Homo sapiens: one gene and its partner. The protein of the gene in region 1 purifies or fractionates together with the protein of each later gene. This does not show direct contact. Each region holds a gene or a part of one and is shown on either strand. Other genes may lie near its edges.

Evidence for each region.
Region 2: the proteins of KLK15 (region 1) and KREMEN2 purify together in Homo sapiens (affinity purification with mass spectrometry; one large-scale study listed by BioGRID and IntAct). This does not show direct contact.

Annotation. Positions count from the first base shown.
Region 1 is NC_000019.10:50,827,419-50,831,109, forward strand, and holds part of KLK15 (kallikrein-15 isoform 4 preproprotein), read right to left. Parts: exon of another isoform or gene 3,681-3,691; intron 3,147-3,680; exon of another isoform or gene 3,112-3,146; intron 398-3,111; coding exon 244-397; intron 1-243. UniProt on the Homo sapiens protein: Protease whose physiological substrate is not yet known.
Region 2 is NC_000016.10:2,962,362-2,967,261, forward strand, and holds the start of KREMEN2 (kremen protein 2 isoform d precursor), read left to right. Parts: upstream 1-1,913; 5' UTR 1,914-2,159; coding exon 2,160-2,253; intron 2,254-2,497; coding exon 2,498-2,672; intron 2,673-3,778; coding exon 3,779-3,870; intron 3,871-3,963; coding exon 3,964-4,088; intron 4,089-4,280; coding exon 4,281-4,434; intron 4,435-4,548; coding exon 4,549-4,881; intron 4,882-4,900. UniProt on the Homo sapiens protein: Receptor for Dickkopf proteins. Cooperates with DKK1/2 to inhibit Wnt/beta-catenin signaling by promoting the endocytosis of Wnt receptors LRP5 and LRP6.

The DNA.
Region 1 (3,691 bases):
CGAATCCAGGATTCTCACATCCCTAGAACTGAGGCTCAAAAGCTGGAACTAGTCTTCTCCTTCCTCCTTCAGAGATCGAAGGCTTTGAAACACACACTCCTTCCTAACCCAGGGGCTTGACATCCGGCCTCCTCGTCTTTCAGAACCCAGGAGTTCTGGCGTCTGCCTCCGTCTTCCCCCAAATCTAGGAGCTCTTCCCCCCGAACCAGGCTCCCTCAGGACCCTGAGCCCCTGCCTTCATACCGGCTTTGGCAGTGGGCCGCAGACAGCACCCAGTGTGGGGAGATGAGGGAAGCGCCACAGTTAAAGCGTCCACGCTCGTAGAGAGCCACTTGCCATGGCTGGGAGTGGGGTGCACACTCGTCACCTTCCAGCAACTTGTCACCATCCTGGGCTGCTAAGAGAAGGGGTAGAGGATGCCTGAGGACAGGGACGTTTACATTGCCTCCTACACCTTCCTTGCACCCTGCCCTAACTACTATATGCCTATGCCTTTCCCCTAACTTCTCAAGACACCCTGCCCTGTTTTTGTTTGTTGTTGTTGTTGTTTTTGAGACGGAGTCTCACTCTTTTGCCCAGGCTGGAGTGCAGTGGCATGATCTCAGCTCACTGCAACTTCCGCCTCCTGGGTTCAAGTGATCCTCCTGCCTCAGCCTCCCGAGTAGCTGAGGTGCCCGCCACCACACCTGGCTAATTTTTGTATTTTTAGTAGAGACGAGGTCTCACCATGTTAGCCAGGGTAGTCTCAAACTTCTGACTTCAAATGCTCTGCCCGCCTCAGCCTCCCAAAGTGCTGGGATTACAGGTGTGAGCCACCATGCTCCGCCTGCCCTGTTGTTTATTTACAACCGCTGCCTGTTTTCTCCAGAACTCTAGCCCCCACCCCATTTGCTATAAGACTCTGGGAGAGAGAGGAAGGGGAACAGACCAGAGGGCAAGAAGTCCTCTGTGGTTGGGGGTGGAGACAGGGGCACTGGATACAGGTTCAGACAGGTGGTCACTTGAAACCAGTCATTCACGGTCACCAAATTGTCACAGACGTCAAACGCATGTGGCCACTCAGTATGTGTGACCCAGCCTTGGCCCCAGAGTCTGGACATGTCAGCCAAATTCAGTGTGCAGTATGAGTCCCAGATGTGGCTATACAAGGTCATGGACATGCATACATGCACATCCAGCTTCCACACTTAGGTACAGCTATGGACAGGACTGGAAGCTGAAATTCACTTGCATGCACATGGGTTGCAGCTTCAAGAATCACAGCACAGGCTGGGCACGGTGGCTCATGCCTGTAATCCCAGCACTTTGGGAGGCCGAGGCGGGTGGATCACCTGAGGTCAGGAGTTCGAGACCAGCCTGGCCAATATGGGGAAACCCTGTCTCTAACAAAAATACAAAAAATTAGCTGGGCATGGTGGCGGGTGCCTGTAATCCCAGCTACTCTGGAGGCTGAGGCAGGAAAATCGCTTGAACCCGGGAGGCGGAGATTGCAGTGAGCGGAGGTTGCTCCATTGCACTCCAGCCTGGGTGACAAGAGTGAAACTCCATCTCAAAAAAAAAAAAAAAAAAAAAAAAAGAATCACAGCACAGATGTTCATATGTGTATATGAATATGGATGGTTAAGACATGAATACATACACACACACACATGCACACACAAACACACACACAGAATTGGATATTGTTCAGACCTAAATTCAACATCTCTAGTGTGAGTCTTGGCATCCAGTGTCACAGACACTTGCATACAGGGTCTGGACAAAGATGGGTCCTTAAGCCTGGGTTCGAATGTACTAGCTGTGAAACTTTGAGTAAGTTATTCGACCTGTCTGTGCCTCTGTTTCCTCATCTGTAAAATGAAGATTGTTGTAAGGATGAGGTAGGAATGTGTATGTGTGTGTGTGCATGTGTGTATGTATGGTGAGTGATACCTAGCCCTGGTAGCTACTTAATAATATTAGTTGTTTTTTGCAAATGACACCTGGATTTAGTCACAGGGACATACGTGTGAAAGTTCAGGTCCATCCTGGAGATGGCCAACATAAGTCAGACATCTGCACAGAATTACCTATAATAAATAGTCAAGGTTGGCCAGGTGTGGTGGCTCACGCCTGTAATCCCAGCACTTTGGGAGGCCAAGGCCGAGGTGGGTGGATCACCTGAGGTCAGGAGTTTGAGACCAGCCTGGCCAACATCGTGAAATCCCGTCTCTACTAAAAAATAAATAAATAAATAAATAAAAATACAAAAATCAGCTGGGCGTGGTGGTGCGTGCCTGTAATTCTAGCTACTCGGGAGGCAGAGACAGAATTGCTTGAACCTGGGAGGCGGAGGTTGCAGTGAGCTGAGGTTGCACCACTGAACTCCAGCTTGGGCGGCAGAGCGAGACTCCGTCTCAAAAAAAACCAAACAAACAAAAAAAAGTCAAGGTTAAAACCGTGATTCACCCACAAGACATTTTGTAGAGTTAGAGCTGCAGACACCAACCCAGAAGGCCAACACTCAGATGTGGACTTGCTGTCTGGGGCAGCACCCAGACACGGGGCTGGGCATTCAAGGTCAAAGACATGCAGCTGAAGCCAGAGGCAGCCAGGGCAGGACATATTTATCCATCTCTAGATCAGCCCCCAAGCCAGATCTGTGGAGTCACTGATTGGGTTTCACATATGGGGATCTGGCTCATGCATGTGGAGAGGATGTGAACATACAGGGCCTTGTATACCCACTGCACACGTGCATGTACACACACACACACACACACACACACAGAATGGCATTATGCTTAAGGACATGATTAGAGACATTCAAGGTCACAGGACCAGGACCCCTCTCCACTGGGCAATGTGGATGCATCCCCTGAAGGTTGAAGCCATGCACACTCCCACCCACACAGGGGCAGGATTTGCACAGCCAGACCAAATGCCCACACTCTCCCCATCACAGTCAGGAACTGGGCCAAAGGCCCCCGTGAGACCAGGGGAATGCGGATGTGGTGGACAAGGGGCTTAACAAAGGAAGGGTGAGGTCGTCCTCCGAAGGGCGGAGGGTACGGGCTGAACAGCTGGGCACCGAGGCTGCACCTGGCCAGTCCAAGCCAGAGGAAGGTGGAGGCCCCAGCTGGGCGCAGCAGGCAGGCGCGAGGCAGGTAGGTGAGTGCACAGAGAGAGCCGGAGGGGAGGCTGGAGGCGTGGGGGTCTCAGGGGCCCCCAGGAGTGAGGGTCATTTGTGGCAGAACGTTAATGAAAGTCCACCCCCCAATTTCTCCAGAAGAGAGGCATCAGGTTACAATTAATTTCTTGGTGTGTGGCAGCTGAGTTCAATCTGGAGTTTGCCTGACACCCAAGGTGACCTTGATGTTGTGGCCGTCCCTCTGAGCCACAGCCCCTTCCCTTGTCAAATGAGGTCGGTGGTGCCCACCACACATAGACGTTGTATGTAAGCTCTAAGCACCGTGCCTGGCTTGCACACCTGAAGGGGCACTACCTGGGCCAGGCTTATGCTTCTGCCTCACACACAACCACATTTAATCCCCTCAAAGACCCTGTAAGAGACAGGGAGTGGCAGGTGTGGGACTCAAGCTGGAGTCTGTCTGTGCTGTTGGCCTCTCAGCACTTGTCTAATGCTTGCTATGTATATTACCTCTGTTATGCTATTGAGACCTCACTGTTATTGTCTCAAGTGGGTGCTGTC
Region 2 (4,900 bases), on another chromosome or scaffold:
CAAATGCTGGGGAAGTGGTGGGGGGTGGGCTTCTTAGTTCTGGAAGTTTCCGTGAGTGACCTGAGACTGAAGTTTGCCGCAGGGATACTCCACCCCACTCCATCTCAGTGCCCCAGCCTCAGCACTGAGCACCCACTTCCTCTCACCCCCTGCCCCCTCTGGAGGAGACAGGCCTGGGCCAACCGAACCGGGTGTCACAGTGCCAGGGACAGAGGGACGGTTCTTTCAGACCCTACTCTCTCAAGGGAAGGGGCTGATTCCTCCACCAGCGTCCCAAGCCGGCCCCCTTTCCGCACAGAGTCCTTAATTGTCCCTGTCGCCACCTTGCCCCATCCTCAGATGGCTGTGGCTGTGGGGGTGAAGCTCCCCACGCACCGCCATTGTGCAGGCCTGCCCCTAGGACATCCTCTGTGGACTGGAGCCCGGGAGGACTTCACTGAGCCCCCGCCAAGAGAAACCGGGCAGACAGGTGGTCCCGGATGCTCCCTCGTCGGGAAGCGCAGTTGGGTTCCAGGGAGCCCGTGGGTGCTGGAGGCCCCAGCTCAGGGCTCAGTGAGCCGGGCCAGCCTGGCCTCTGAGAGGGCTCCCGGAGGAGGCGACCAGGACCCTGGCCTAGAGTCTCAGCAAGTCCATCTCCTTCAAATGCCCCCACCTCGGCTCCACGCCCCTCCTCCAGAGCACACTCGCGTGAGGCGCCAGCTGGAAGATCCTCGCGGGTCCCAGCACCGCAGTGGGTGCCTGGGCCTGACAGAACCTCCCTGAACCCCATCTTTCTTCTCCATCGACACCGGGGCAGAGACGGTGTGGGGGCTGCAGGGCGGGGACTGGTCGGCCTGGGCTCGACAGCTTGGCGAGGGCCTGGTGCGGGCTGGGCAGGCTGGACTGAGGGGCAAAGAGGTCTGGGCGGGGCGGGGCCGCTCTGGGCGCCCGGCCCCCACCAGTTCCTTCCCCCGGCCCCCGCCTCCGCCCTCCCACGCACCTGCGCTGGCCTCCCCCCAAGCCCTGGGGGCAGCGGGCGGGTGGCGCTGGGAGATCAGAGGACTCGGAGGAGTCGGGCCCAGGGGGAGGGGGCGGGGAATTTCCCCCCACGCCTGCCTGGGCCTGCTCCCCTCCCCCTCCCCCGCCAGGTGGGGGGCACGGCTGGGGGAATTCCACTGCAGTGTGAAGGCTCGGGAGAGTCTGGGCTGGGGGTCCCAGGGAAGGGCGGGGCAGGGGGAGGAGGAGGGGACAGACTGGGACCTGGGGCGCAGCTGCCTTTCTCCCCAGACACCAGCTGCCCCTGCCTGTCCCGGACTGAGCGTCCACGACTCCCGCCTGTCTCGTGGGCGCGGGGGCAGGGAGTGGAGCTTCCTCCGTCAGGCCAGCGGCATCTGGACCAGGGGCGGGAGGGGCGTGCGGATCCGAAGAAAGTGTGCGCGTGAGCGCCTGGCAATGAATGGGAGAGAGTGCGAGCGCGTGCGTGCACTGGGAGGAGGGCGCTTGTAACTCGGACATTCCGGGTGTCCTGGGGCGCGTGCGACCACGTGAGGGGGTTCTGTATCTCCCATTTTAAGGGCCTTCCGTCCGCTTGCCCCGCCTGTCCCCCTCCACACCTTCCCACTTGAACCGGCACCGACCTGAGGGAGAGGGGGCCGGGAAGCGCTGGACGCCCGGGGTCGGGGGAACGGGCGTGGGAGGCGTCTGGACCTGCTGCCTCCGCTCCAGTGCTGGGCGGGGCTTCCCGGCCTCCCATGGGGGGAGGGAGAGACCCAGGGGGAGGGACCCACGGAGGGATGCGAGGCGGGCAGGAGTCAGCCCGTTGGAGACCTGGGCGAGGGAGACGCCGAGAGCTAGGCTCAGTGGGAGGGGGCGGGCGTAGAGGCTGAGGCACCGCCCAGAGCTCGCTGAGACAGAGACTGAGAACGCCCCCGGCCAGATTCCCCCCGGAGAGACCCGGGTAGGGACAGGGACAGAGAGACGCCTCTAGGGGCAGAGGCCCTGGGAGGCAAAGACCCCCAGGAGAGATTTACCCACCCCAGACGGAAAGCGCGGCTCAGAGTCGGACGAGGGGAGACTGTCAGAGGACAACGCCCCCTAGGTCTCCTGGGAGACCCCGAAGCGACCCCGGGGGCAGCCCGGGCCGTGTCCGGGCGAGGGTGACCTATCCTTGGTTGAGAGCGATGGGGACACAAGCCCTGCAGGGCTTCCTCTTTCTCCTCTTCCTCCCGCTGCTGCAGCCGCGTGGGGCCTCGGCTGGGAGCCTGCACAGTCCAGGTAAGTCCCCGCACGGCTGTCGGGCCGTGTTCACCACCCCTTCCTCGGCCTCCGCCCCCAGGGCCAGGCCCCCAAGGCTAGGGAGGGGGACAGAGCAGGTGGCCGGAGCAGCTGAGCAGCCCGAGGGCTCCTGCAGGGGCGGGTGCGGGGTCGCTGGCTGGGGACCCAGGCGGGAGGTGGCGTAGGGGCGCGAGGATGCCCGGCGTGGGTCCGGACCTCCCCAGGCCCTGCCTTTGCCGTGCAGGCCTGTCCGAATGCTTCCAGGTGAATGGGGCTGACTACCGCGGCCACCAGAACCGCACTGGCCCGCGCGGGGCGGGCCGCCCGTGCCTCTTCTGGGACCAGACGCAGCAACACAGCTACAGCAGCGCCAGCGACCCCCACGGCCGCTGGGGGCTGGGCGCGCACAACTTCTGCCGGTGAGGGGCGGGGCCTGCGCTGGGGGCGAGGCTGGGCTCACCATTGCAGGGATGGCCCGAAGCGGGGCCTCCGTGCGGGCGGGGTGGAGGTCTGCCGTGGACTGGCAGCCCAGCCTCCTGGAGAACCTGGGGGCGGGGCCAGAATGAGGGGCGGGGCGGGGCGGGGCGGGGCGCGCGGAACCCTGGCGCAAAAGGGATCCTCCTCAGGTGAACAATTTCTGCAGAGCTCCAGTTCAGGGCCAGGAGAGAAACGGACCTGGGCACTCAAAGGACCCGTATGGGCGGGGCCTGGTCAGAGCGGGGGCCGAATGGGCGGGGCCTTGTCAGAGTGGGGCTCTTGTCATACAACTTATTTTGGGGTTCAGAGCCACAGCTACGGTCTGAGGCAGGATGGACCCAGCGGGAGGAGAGCCGCAAAGCTCAGGAGCTCACTTCTGCTTTTAAGTGGGGTTGGAGGCCAGGCGCGGTGGCTCAGCCTGTAATCCCAGCACTTTGGGAGGCCAAGGCAGGCGGATCATCTGAGGTCAGGAGTTCGAGACCAGCCTGGCTACCATGGTGAAACCCCATTTCTACTAAAAATACAAAAAATTAGCGGGGCATGGTGGCGGGCGCCTGTAATCCCAGCTACTCAGGAGGCTGAGGCAGGAGAATCGCTTGAACCCGGGAGGCGGAGCTTGCAGTGAGCAGAGATCGCGCCAATGCACTCTAGCCTGGGTGACAGAGCGAGACTCGTCTCAAAAAAAAAAAAAAAAAGTGGGGTTTGAGGGACGGAAGTGGCTGAGGCCCATGCCGGGTGGGGGTGAAGAATACAGATGGCCTCAAAGTCCTCATATATGGAGTCAAGTCTAGCAACAGCTGAAGCCTAAAAACAGCTCTCAAGTCCCCTTTAATGACTTCCCGCTGTCCACTCGGAAGTCGACGTCCAGTTCCTTCATCAGGCAGAGTTCTGCGTAGACAAAACTGGAATTTGTGGGTGTACAGCAGGCAGCACAGCCGCTCACAGGCACAGAGCCTTGAAGGCCACTTTGAGCATAGGCTGCGGGGCCGGGCCTGGGTTTGCTATTCTTGGGGTGGTGGGAGCCCCACCACCTCCCTCCCACCCGCAGTAACCCAGACGGTGACGTGCAGCCGTGGTGCTACGTGGCTGAGACAGAGGAGGGCATCTACTGGCGCTACTGCGACATCCCCTCCTGTCACAGTGAGTAGCGCGGCTGGACAGAGGTGGGAACGCTGCTGCATCTGGGAGGAGGGTTGTTTTCGGAGTCACGGAAGTCTGACTCTGCCCCCTCAGTGCCAGGCTACCTGGGATGCTTTGTGGACTCAGGGGCACCCCCAGCCCTCAGCGGCCCCAGCGGCACCTCCACGAAGCTCACGGTCCAGGTGTGCCTACGCTTCTGCCGCATGAAGGGGTACCAGGTACTGCTCACGGGCCCAGACCAGTGACCCCTGACCTGGACCTAAAGACCACACTCAACTCCCAACACTCGGTTGCCAAACCCAGACACCGGTTTCTGAACCTCCAGCCCGATTCCCACCCCGACCCCAGGCCCCCACCACTTCACCCCTACCCCAGCCCCTGCCCTGGGGTCACCCAGTCTGTGCTCCCAGCTGGCGGGCGTGGAGGCCGGTTACGCCTGCTTCTGTGGCTCTGAAAGCGACCTGGCCCGGGGACGCCTGGCCCCCGCCACCGACTGTGACCAGATCTGTTTCGGCCACCCTGGACAGCTGTGTGGCGGCGATGGGCGGCTGGGCGTCTATGAAGGTGAGGAGTGGGCGGGGACCAGGGGCCTGGGCGGGCCTCGAGGTGGGGCCTGGCCGGGCAGGGGAGCCGCCGTGTCCTGGTCCTCAGGATGCTGACTGCCGGCCCCGCCCGCAGTGTCGGTGGGCTCCTGCCAGGGGAACTGGACAGCGCCTCAGGGCGTCATCTACTCCCCGGACTTCCCGGACGAGTACGGGCCGGACCGGAACTGCAGCTGGGCCCTGGGCCCGCCAGGCGCCGCGCTGGAGCTCACCTTCCGCCTCTTCGAGCTGGCCGACCCGCGCGACCGGCTGGAGCTGCGCGACGCGGCTTCGGGCAGCCTGCTCCGCGCCTTCGATGGCGCCCGCCCACCGCCGTCCGGGCCGCTGCGCCTGGGCACTGCCGCGCTGCTGCTCACCTTCCGAAGCGACGCGCGCGGCCACGCGCAAGGCTTCGCGCTCACCTACCGCGGTGAGCCTCAGCTCGGCGC